Linked DNA regions of Homo sapiens: region 1 is linked to region 2. The links come from fine-mapping of genetic effects on gene expression. Tissue or cell type: whole blood. Region 2 holds a variant in brackets; the other region holds the start of a gene. All regions are shown on one strand. Distances are from middle to middle. Region 1 holds the start of AGO4 (argonaute RISC component 4). Region 2 has its middle 7.7 kb from the start of C1orf216.

Region 1 (4,389 bases), 97 kb before region 2:
ATTTCACCACTTGACCCTTTGAAACCCTAATGAAGTCACTTCATCCTCTCTGAACCTCACTTTTCTCATCTGTAAAATGGAATAACTACCTGCCCTGCCTACCTCCCAGAGGATCAAATGAGCTAATAGTCATAAAAGCACTTTACAAACTATAAAGTACTGCAAACAACATATTACCAAAATAAGTGGAAATCTAATTAATTATATTTCTGAGTATTGGCAGAAACTGAACTAGGTTGCAGGGAGGCGGTGGGCAGGGAGGGATAGAACAAGACTAGAAGGCTTCAGGGACTGTTCAAGTGAGGAGGGCACAAAGCACTAGATCCAGGTGTGCTCTGCCAAAGAAGCAGGGATGATTCTCTAGGTTCTAAAACAGCCTGGATGAATCATCCCACAAGACGATCAACTCCCTTTGCTCTGATTCTATGCTTAGCAGGCAGCTACTTATTAGTTGGGTTTCCAAGGTACTGCAACACCAAAAAAGGAGTTTGCTAGAGAGCAGACAGGAAAATATTCCACTCAACAGAAAAGATCCATGTGACATTTTGGCTTATTCATTAGTGTCTTATAAATGTGGTTAGTGAGAATTAATTTTCCACAATCTGAACAATCCTGAGTGAACCACTAAGTCCTCAAACCTGCAAAAGCTAAAATCAAAACAAAAAAAAAAAAGAGTCCCTGGGCAGTGCCTAATATCACCAGGTTGATCCTTTCCATGAAATTCAGTTTATGCCCACAGTTACACAATTTCTTTCGATATCAGATCATAAATGCAACAGTTGTTTCAATTATGAATTACTAGGGGGAGGGAAGAAACATCTGTTGAGCATCTATAGGCACTAGTCTCTACAATAAGACTTATCATATACTCTCATTTCATTCTCTCAACAATCTTACAGAACATACTTATTATTACCCTCAATTTATAGACGAGAAAATGAAAGTTCAAAGGAATTGAGTAATTTTCCCAGGGTCATACAACTATTACATTACTAGATTGAATCTGTTACATTCCTAAAGACCTGAGCATGTCTTTAGCCAGGGGACATATCTGAAGTTAACCTGGCATAATACACTGAAGTTTATCAAACAATATTAATGCGGCAAGCCAATTTATTTTTAAAAGGCATATGAAATTTGATTATGAGGGCCTTTAAACAATACTTTAAGAAGCAAATTAGGGTGGGGCTTAATCACTCAGCTATGCAAACAAGTGCTAAGTAAACAAACGTGCCAAGTTTCCAAACTCAAATGGCAACTCGAATTTTCTACGCACTAAAAAGATGAAACACTCTACGACTAAGTTCATTATGTAGGTAAAGTTTGAATATTAAAGTGAATTCCACCACAGCCCCTAAACACTGAGCTACTTAGCCAAGGCATTAGAAACCTGTTGGGCTTTGAGGTGGAAGCACCAGGCCCCAATACTCAGGACACTTGTTACAGCCTGGAATGGTTCTTCTGGTTTGGATAGAGAGAAATAACCAGAGGCCATCCATATCCACAACAAATTAGTTTCCAAAGCACTTTCTCCTTCATTTGATCCTCACAACCACTCATAACCCAATTAGAAGAGAACTCAGGGCATTGAAGCCTGTGGTGGAGCAGACTGACTGGCAACTCCTGTGTCACTCAAAGGCTGGCTCAGACCACTCTGAGACTAACACACAGACTGAGTGACAGAGGCACAGGACCATGTTCTTTGGGACATCAGGGCCTTTCAGAAAGGGTGGGCATTTTGTCCCTTGACCTTCAGAGATCATGAGAGGTGTTTGGATGAAGTTCTTCTTCCTCATCTGAAGGCTCTGGACCATCTGCCAGTGCAAAGAAAAATAGGGGCGCGGCCCCAAACCAGGACTACCGGCTGGTAGTAGGCAGCGGGGCCCTTTTCCCGGTCTGGGCCAGGCCTCCGCGCGCACTGGGTAGCGGATCGCCCCCTTCTGAGGCCCAAACTACCCTCGTCGCGACCCCGGGCACATATCGTCTCCCCGAGGTGGGGCCAAGAGTGGCCTCCGCCCGGCAGCGCCGGTCACCTTCCCGAACCTCCCCCCTGGACCTCGGGATCCACCCAACGGCCGGCTGGGGCGCGGTCACCGCCCCCCAGGCCCGGGTCAGCTCCCTCCGCTTCGTGCTGCGGGGCTCGGGTCCCCTTCCCCGAGGCCTGGCGGCCCGAACCCGGCGAGGCGACGGGGCAGCGAAAGTCCCGGCCGCCCGCCCCGGGTCCCGGGTCCCGGGTCCCGCCCCGACCCGAGCTCGCTCCTCACCGGGTCCCAGCGCCTCCATGGCGGCGGCGGGGGCCGCCTCGCCCCGGTCCCCGGCGCCTCCCGCTCCGGGCCCCGCCGCCGCCGCCGCCGCCGCCGCGTAACGCTTGATCTCCGGAATATTGGCGCTGGGGTGGCGCCGCGGAGACGCGGGCGCTGGGCAGGGGGCGGCGGCGGCGCCCGGCCCGGGGACAGGGACCCGGCTCCGGCTCTTCCGGCCTCAGCGACAACAAAAACAATCCCCGCCGCCGCCGCCGCCGCCGCCGCCAACGGGAGCGGGAGCGGGAGCCAGCGCGCGCGCCCGCCGGGAGGGAAGGGGGCGCGGGGTGCGCGGACCCAGGGTCCCGGCGGGCGGAGGGGGCGTGCGCGGCCCCGGGCGCGGGGTCCACAGAGCCCGGCAGGCGGCGAGGCGGGTCGGGGAACGAGCGCGCGCCCGGAGGGTGCAGAGCCCGGTGGACGTGTCGGGCACGCGCCCGCTGGCCCGCTCTGCCCCGTCCACCCGAGGAGGCCGTCCGGTGGCCAACGGCTCTGGGGGCTACGTGCCATCCCCCCAGGGCGTCCTGCAAAAGATCTGGATTCCAGTTCCGCTGACCCACAGATTCAGTTTTCCACTTCTGTGAGTGGAAAGTGTACTGAGATTCACAGGAGCCACCTCGCCTCCCTCCTCCCTCCTCCCACCCCAGATCGCTTCTGTCATCTCGTCTTTTAGGGTCACCTTAGACGCTAGCAGTCCTCCTTCATCCCTTCATTCAGCACCACACACCCAACTGCGCGTCCCTCTCCGTATAGCCGGAAGGCACCACGGGAATGGACCCTGATGAATGATGCATTCCCTCCCTGGTCCCATGACAAGCGCCTCTGGTCAGCAAATCACCAGTCACTTTAGAAGAGAAAGGTCTTGGCCGGGCGTGGTGGCTCACGCCTGTAATACCAGCACTTTGGGAGGCGGAGGCGGGTGGATCACCTGGGGTCAGGAGTTTGAGACCATCCTGGCCAACATGGCGGAAGCCCATCTCTACTAAAAACACAAAAAATTAGCCGGGCGTGGAGGCAGGCGCCTGTAATCCCAGCTACTTGGGAGGCTGAGGCAGGAGAATCGCTTGAACCCGGGAGGCAGAGGTTTCAGTGAGCCGAAATCGGGCCACTGCACTCCAGCCTGGGCGACAGAGCAAGACTGTCTGAAAAAAAAAAAATAAAAATAAAAGAGAGAGAGAGAGAGAAAGGTCTTGCTTTCTTGGATGCCTTCCCCTTAGCAGACAAAAGCCAAGGGAGCAGCACCACCTCCAAGGCAGCATGGTCAGCCCAGCAGGCACAGCATCTTTAGGGCTTTCAGTAAGGACTTTGAGTGGGAGAACACTGGACAACAGGCCAAGAAGCAGTTTCTAGTCAGCAGAAGGAAGGAGCCCCTTGTCCACCAATTGAAAAGGTACGATGAGTTTGTGTGTGTGTGTTGTATTCCTTTGCTACGGCATAACGTAACAAAGTACCACAGACTGGGTGGCTTAAACAACAGAAATTTATTTTCTCACAATTCTGGAGGCTGGCAGTCAGAGATACGATGTAGGCAGGGTTGGTTCCTTCTGAGGCCTATCTCCTTCACTTGGTAGATAGTGGCCTTCTCCCAGTGACTTCACGTGGTCTTCCCTCTGTGCACGTCTGTGTCCAAATTTCCTCTTCTTATAAGGACAGCAGTCCTATTAGAGTAGGGCTCACTCTAGTGACCTCGTTTTAATTTAATTACCTCTTCAGAGACCCTGTTTCCAATTACAGTCACATCCTGGGGTGCTAGAGTTAGGACTTCAATATACAAATTATTGGGGTGGGGGATAATTTAGGCCCCTAGCATGTGTGGTGGGATATTCATTTGAGCACCTGCCATGTGCTGTCACAGAGCCAGGTAGTTTTTTTATGTAATGATAAAAAATATTAGCATCACATCCTGGCCATGCACTCTGCTATGGGCTTCTCATTGTCACTCAATCTTTACAACCACCAGTAAGGTAGATATTGTTAAGAAAGGTATTTGTACAGATGATGACACCGAAGCTCAGGGAAGTTAAGTAAGTCGGGCTTTGCATTACATGATGCTGAAGTGAAGCATGGGAAAAATTGGAGTTCAAATCTTGCA
Region 2 (4,389 bases):
AATTAGCCAGACGTGGGGACGGGTGCCTGTAATCCCAGCTACTCAGTAGGCTGAGGCAGGAGAGTCGCTTGAACCTGGGAGGCAGAGGTTGCAGTGGGCAGAGATCGTGCCACTGCATTCCAGTCCGGGCAACAAGAGGGAAACTCCATCTCAAAAAACCAAATAAAACAAAAAATAAAACACCAAGTACCCTGGTGTCATCACTTCCCTGAAGGGCGCTCTGACTATGACTATGATTTCGGGTCCTTAGATGGTTTTGACACACATGTAGTTATAATATACAGTCATCCTTTGTTATCTGAGGGGATTGGTTCCAGGATCCCCAGGGATACCAAAATTCACAAATCTGAAATACTGTATTTTATTTTTATTTGATTTGATTCTTTATTTTTGGAGACAGCGTCTCCAAGATACGCCCAAGCTAGAGCATAGTGGTGCAATCATAGCTCACTGTACCCTTGAACTTCTGGGCTCAAGTGATCCTCCCACCTTAGCCTCTGAGTAGCTGGGACTACAGGCACACACCACCACACCCAGCTAATTCTTAAGTTTTTTGTAGTGATGGCTTCTTGCTATATTGCCCAGGCTGGTCTCAAACTCCTGGCTTCAAGCCATCCTCCCACCTGAGCCTCCCAAAGTGCTGGGATTACAGGTGTGAGCCACTGCGCCTGGCCAACATTTTTATTTTATTTTATTTTATTTTATTATTATTATTTTTTTGAGACGGAGTCTCACTGTGTTGCCCAAGCTGGAGTGCAGTGGCGCGATCTCGGCTCACTGCAAGCTCCGCCTTCCGGGTTCACACCATTCTCCTGCCTAAGCCTCACGAGTAGGTGGGACTACAGGCGCCCGCCACCGCGCCCAGCTAATTTTTTGTATTTTTAGTAGAGACAGGGTTTCACTGTGGTCTCAATATCCTGACCTCGTGATCTGCCCGCCTCGGCCTCCCAAAGTGCTGGGAGCCACTGTGCCTGGCAACATATTTATTTTAAACTTCACAAAGTATACTTCTCACTGAAACAGTTAATAATTCTTGTCATCTCCACACTTGACACTTAAACAGAAATAGTATTGAACCAATTTTTACAAATTCCACTTACTAAGAGATGTTTTGGCAAAGGGCTAAGGCTAAATTTGAATGGAGATTTCTGACAATAAGATGTCTGTCAAACCTTCAGAGCATAAGAGGGTGAATTTTTATAAGGAGCCTTTTTTTTTGGAGACAGTCTCACTCTGTTGCCCAGGCTGGAGTGCAGTGGTGTGATCTTGGCTCACTGCAACCTCCACCTCCTGGGTTCAAGCCATTCTCCTACCTCAGCCTCCCAAGCAGCTGGGACTACAGGCACATGCCACCACGCTTGGCTAATTTTTTGTATTTTTAGTAGAGATGGGTTTTTGCCATGTTGCCCAGGCTGGTCTCAAACTCCTGAGCTCGGGCAATCGGCCCACCTCAGCCTCCCAAAGTGCTGGGATTACAGACATGAGCCACCATGCCCGGCCAGGAGCCCCTTTTCTAAATGTGTGAGGGCTCTTTTGAACACAGCCCCTGGTGAAGGACAGAGACCCTGAAGCCAGACACCCTGGATTTGGACCTTGTCCCCATTGTTTTATGTTTTTGTGACCTTGGGCAAGTCAATTAACTTTTCTGTGCTTTAGTTTCCTCATCTTAAAATGGGAATAATAGTAATAACTACTTCGCAGGGTTGCTGCAAGGATTAAATATGTAATATATAGAAGACTTAGAATTGTACCTGACACATAGTAAGTTACATTAATGAATTATGATTATTATAAATCATACTTTTTTGGTACATACAGCTTTTTCATAGAAAAACATTTTTTCTTATGAAATTGGAATCTAAAAAAATTTTTTTTTTTTTTGAGACAGGGTCTGGCTCTGTCGCCCAGGCTGGA[G/T]TGTAGTGGTGTGATCTTGGCTCACTGCAACCTCCGCCTCCTGGGTTTGAGCAATTCTCATGCCTCAGCCTCCCGAGTAGCTGGGATTACAGGTATGCACCACCACGCCTGGCTAATTTTTTTGTATGTTTGGTAAAGATGGGGTTTTACCATGTTGGCCAGGCTGGTCTCTAATTCCTGGCCTCAAGTGATCCGCCTCAGCCTCCCCACCTGCTGGGATTACAGGTGTGAGCCATCGCACCTGGCTGAATCTAAAATTTGAATGTCATCTTTAAAGGGGAAGGGGACTTCTAAAAAATAAAGCTGCCTAATATTCCTTTCCAGAAAAGAACTCTTTGAGCTGAGAAAAAGAAGAAGGTGAGACCAAGGGAATGTGTGGTGAATTGTATGTTTACAGGACCCCTGCCAGTCACTGAAGGTCAGGGACTCCCCGGGGGATGATGGGTTTGGGAAGGAGATTGGCAAGAATAGAGCCACAGCCCAGGACGGCAGAGTTAGGGGCAGGGAAACGGAGGCAGGACTCCAGTGGCTGAACCAACTCAGCCAAGAATTGTGGTTCTCCATCAGGTCCACTGGCCACGAGGCCTAATCATGGGAAGTGCTAAGGTGACCACAGTACCTCCCATAGGCAGATCTGAGCTACACTCTCTATACTCAGTTTCCTCACCTGTGGCAACTATAAGGGCTGAATGAGGAAATGGACGTGAAGATGCTCTGTATGGATTAAGAAGATTGTGTGCCTCCCCTGCATGAGGCCCTGAGGAGCCTGCTCTTGTCTTTGAGAGCTGTGGTGTGCACAGGTAGATGAGACTTGCATCCAAAAGCCTAATGCAGGCTGGGCACAGTGGCTCATGTTTGTAATCCCAACACTTTGGGAGGTTGAGGCAGTAGGATGGCTTGAGCCAAGAGTTTAAGACTCCATCCCTACAAAAAGGGAAAAAAAATTAGTCAGTCATGGTGGTACATGCCTGTGGTCCTAGCCACTCAGGAGCCTGAGGCTGGAGGATCACTTCAGCCCAGGAATTTGAAGCTGCAGTGAGCTATGATCCCACCACTGCACTGAAGCCTGGGTGAGAGAGCAAGACCCTGTCTCAACCCCCTCCCCAACAAAAAGACCCCAAAAGCCTAATGCACAAGCCACTCGTAACCTAGGAGAGGGGAATGCAGGACTGGCTGTCTGTCTAGTTTTCAGTCAGGGACTTCTATACGTGGTTGTTGTCTTAAAGTCATTGGGCCAGGTGCGGTGGCTCATGCCTATAATCCCAGCATTTTGGGAGGCTGTGGCGGGTGGATCATTTGAGGTCAGGAGTTCGAGACCAGCTTGGCCAACATGGTGAGACCCTGTCTCTATGAAAAATATAAAAATCAGCTGGGCATGATAGTACATGCCTGTAATCCCAGCTACTCGGGAGGCTGAGGCAGGAGAATTGCTTGAATCTGGGAGGTGGAGGTTGCAGTGAGCCAAGATCGTGCCGCTGCACTCCAGCCTGGGTGACAGAGTGAGACTGTCTCAAAAAAAAAAAAAAAAAAAAAAGTCATTGGGGTAGGAATTCCTTAGTCCGTGGGACAGTGAGGGGAGTAGGAAAGGTTCATGCACTTGGTAGGAGTTTGGCCAGTCAGCTACCTCCACCCCTTCACCTCTCTCACCAGAATAAAATCCCAAGGAAGTCTAACCTAGGTTTTGGGTGCGACATGAGTCATCTTGCTTAGTAGGAGACATAGGGATGAGATTGGAGCAGAGACCCAGAGACCAACACGGGCAGGGCACACAGCAGAGGCCTGAGTAGGCTGCAGGTACAGGATGGAAAGCATGGAAGGGATTAGCAGAGAGGCCTGTGAGGCTGGGTGCACTGAGAACTTGCTTGCTCTCCAGGGACACCAACTAGGTCAGCCCCATCAAGTATGGTCAGAGTAAATGGGGTTAAAGCCTGAGTGCAGGGAGGCAGAAAATGAACTGGGAACTGAGTAAGAGGGTAAAGCATTAGAAGACTGCAGAAAAAGGCTTCAGAATATCATAGGTGGGCTCCCCGGTGGGGGATCTGGCTTGTTAGGGCTCTGTATAATGGCTATCTCTAAGGAGACTGACTGCCCCATGATGGCAGCCTGTGACCTGTCTACCTGCCTCTTAGCCTTCAAGCCTCACCGGAAACCCTGTGTAGGTAGGTTTGCTCCTACTCTCAGCATGAACAGGTGACAGGAACAGGAGAGAGGCGAGATCTGTAAGGGCCTGGTCAAGGAAGGCTTCCTGGAGGAAGAGGAGCTTGGAGACCCAGTAGAAGTGGAGGCAACAGAGGATAGTGATTTCTAGTGCAGAGTGGACCCAGGTGTCTTGGATCCTCCACTTCTTACTTGTGCCTCACTTTTCTCAACTGTAGAATGGGAACAATGGGAGTACTTCTCTTACAGGGTTACTTGAGAGTTAAATAAGTTAACAGATGTTAAGGGCTTAGACCTGAGCCTGCCTGGCTCACAGGA

What was found. PIP is the estimated chance that this variant, and not a neighbour inherited with it, causes the effect. A credible set is the group of variants that fine-mapping cannot tell apart.
Region 1: it holds the start of AGO4, and the variant in region 2 is the best candidate, but not a certain one, in a credible set for the expression of AGO4 in whole blood (INTERVAL, PIP 0.52).

Annotation. Positions count from the first base shown.
Region 1 is chr1:35,806,311-35,810,699 of GRCh38, reverse strand. It overlaps AGO4 (argonaute RISC component 4), which reads right to left and starts at 2,684. Exons shown (of 18, transcript NM_017629.4): 1 at 2,265-2,684. The coding sequence starts at 2,283. It overlaps CLSPN-DT (CLSPN divergent transcript), which reads right to left. Exons shown (of 3, transcript NR_199050.1): 3 at 3,760-3,955. RefSeq lists enhancers at 1,632-1,911, 3,011-3,510 and silencers at 2,062-2,311, 2,592-2,801.
Region 2 is chr1:35,709,037-35,713,425 of GRCh38, reverse strand. No RefSeq gene overlaps it. Among named protein-coding and RNA genes, the nearest start is that of C1orf216, 7.7 kb to the left of the region's middle. The variant G/T (reference allele first, on the strand shown) is at 1,915.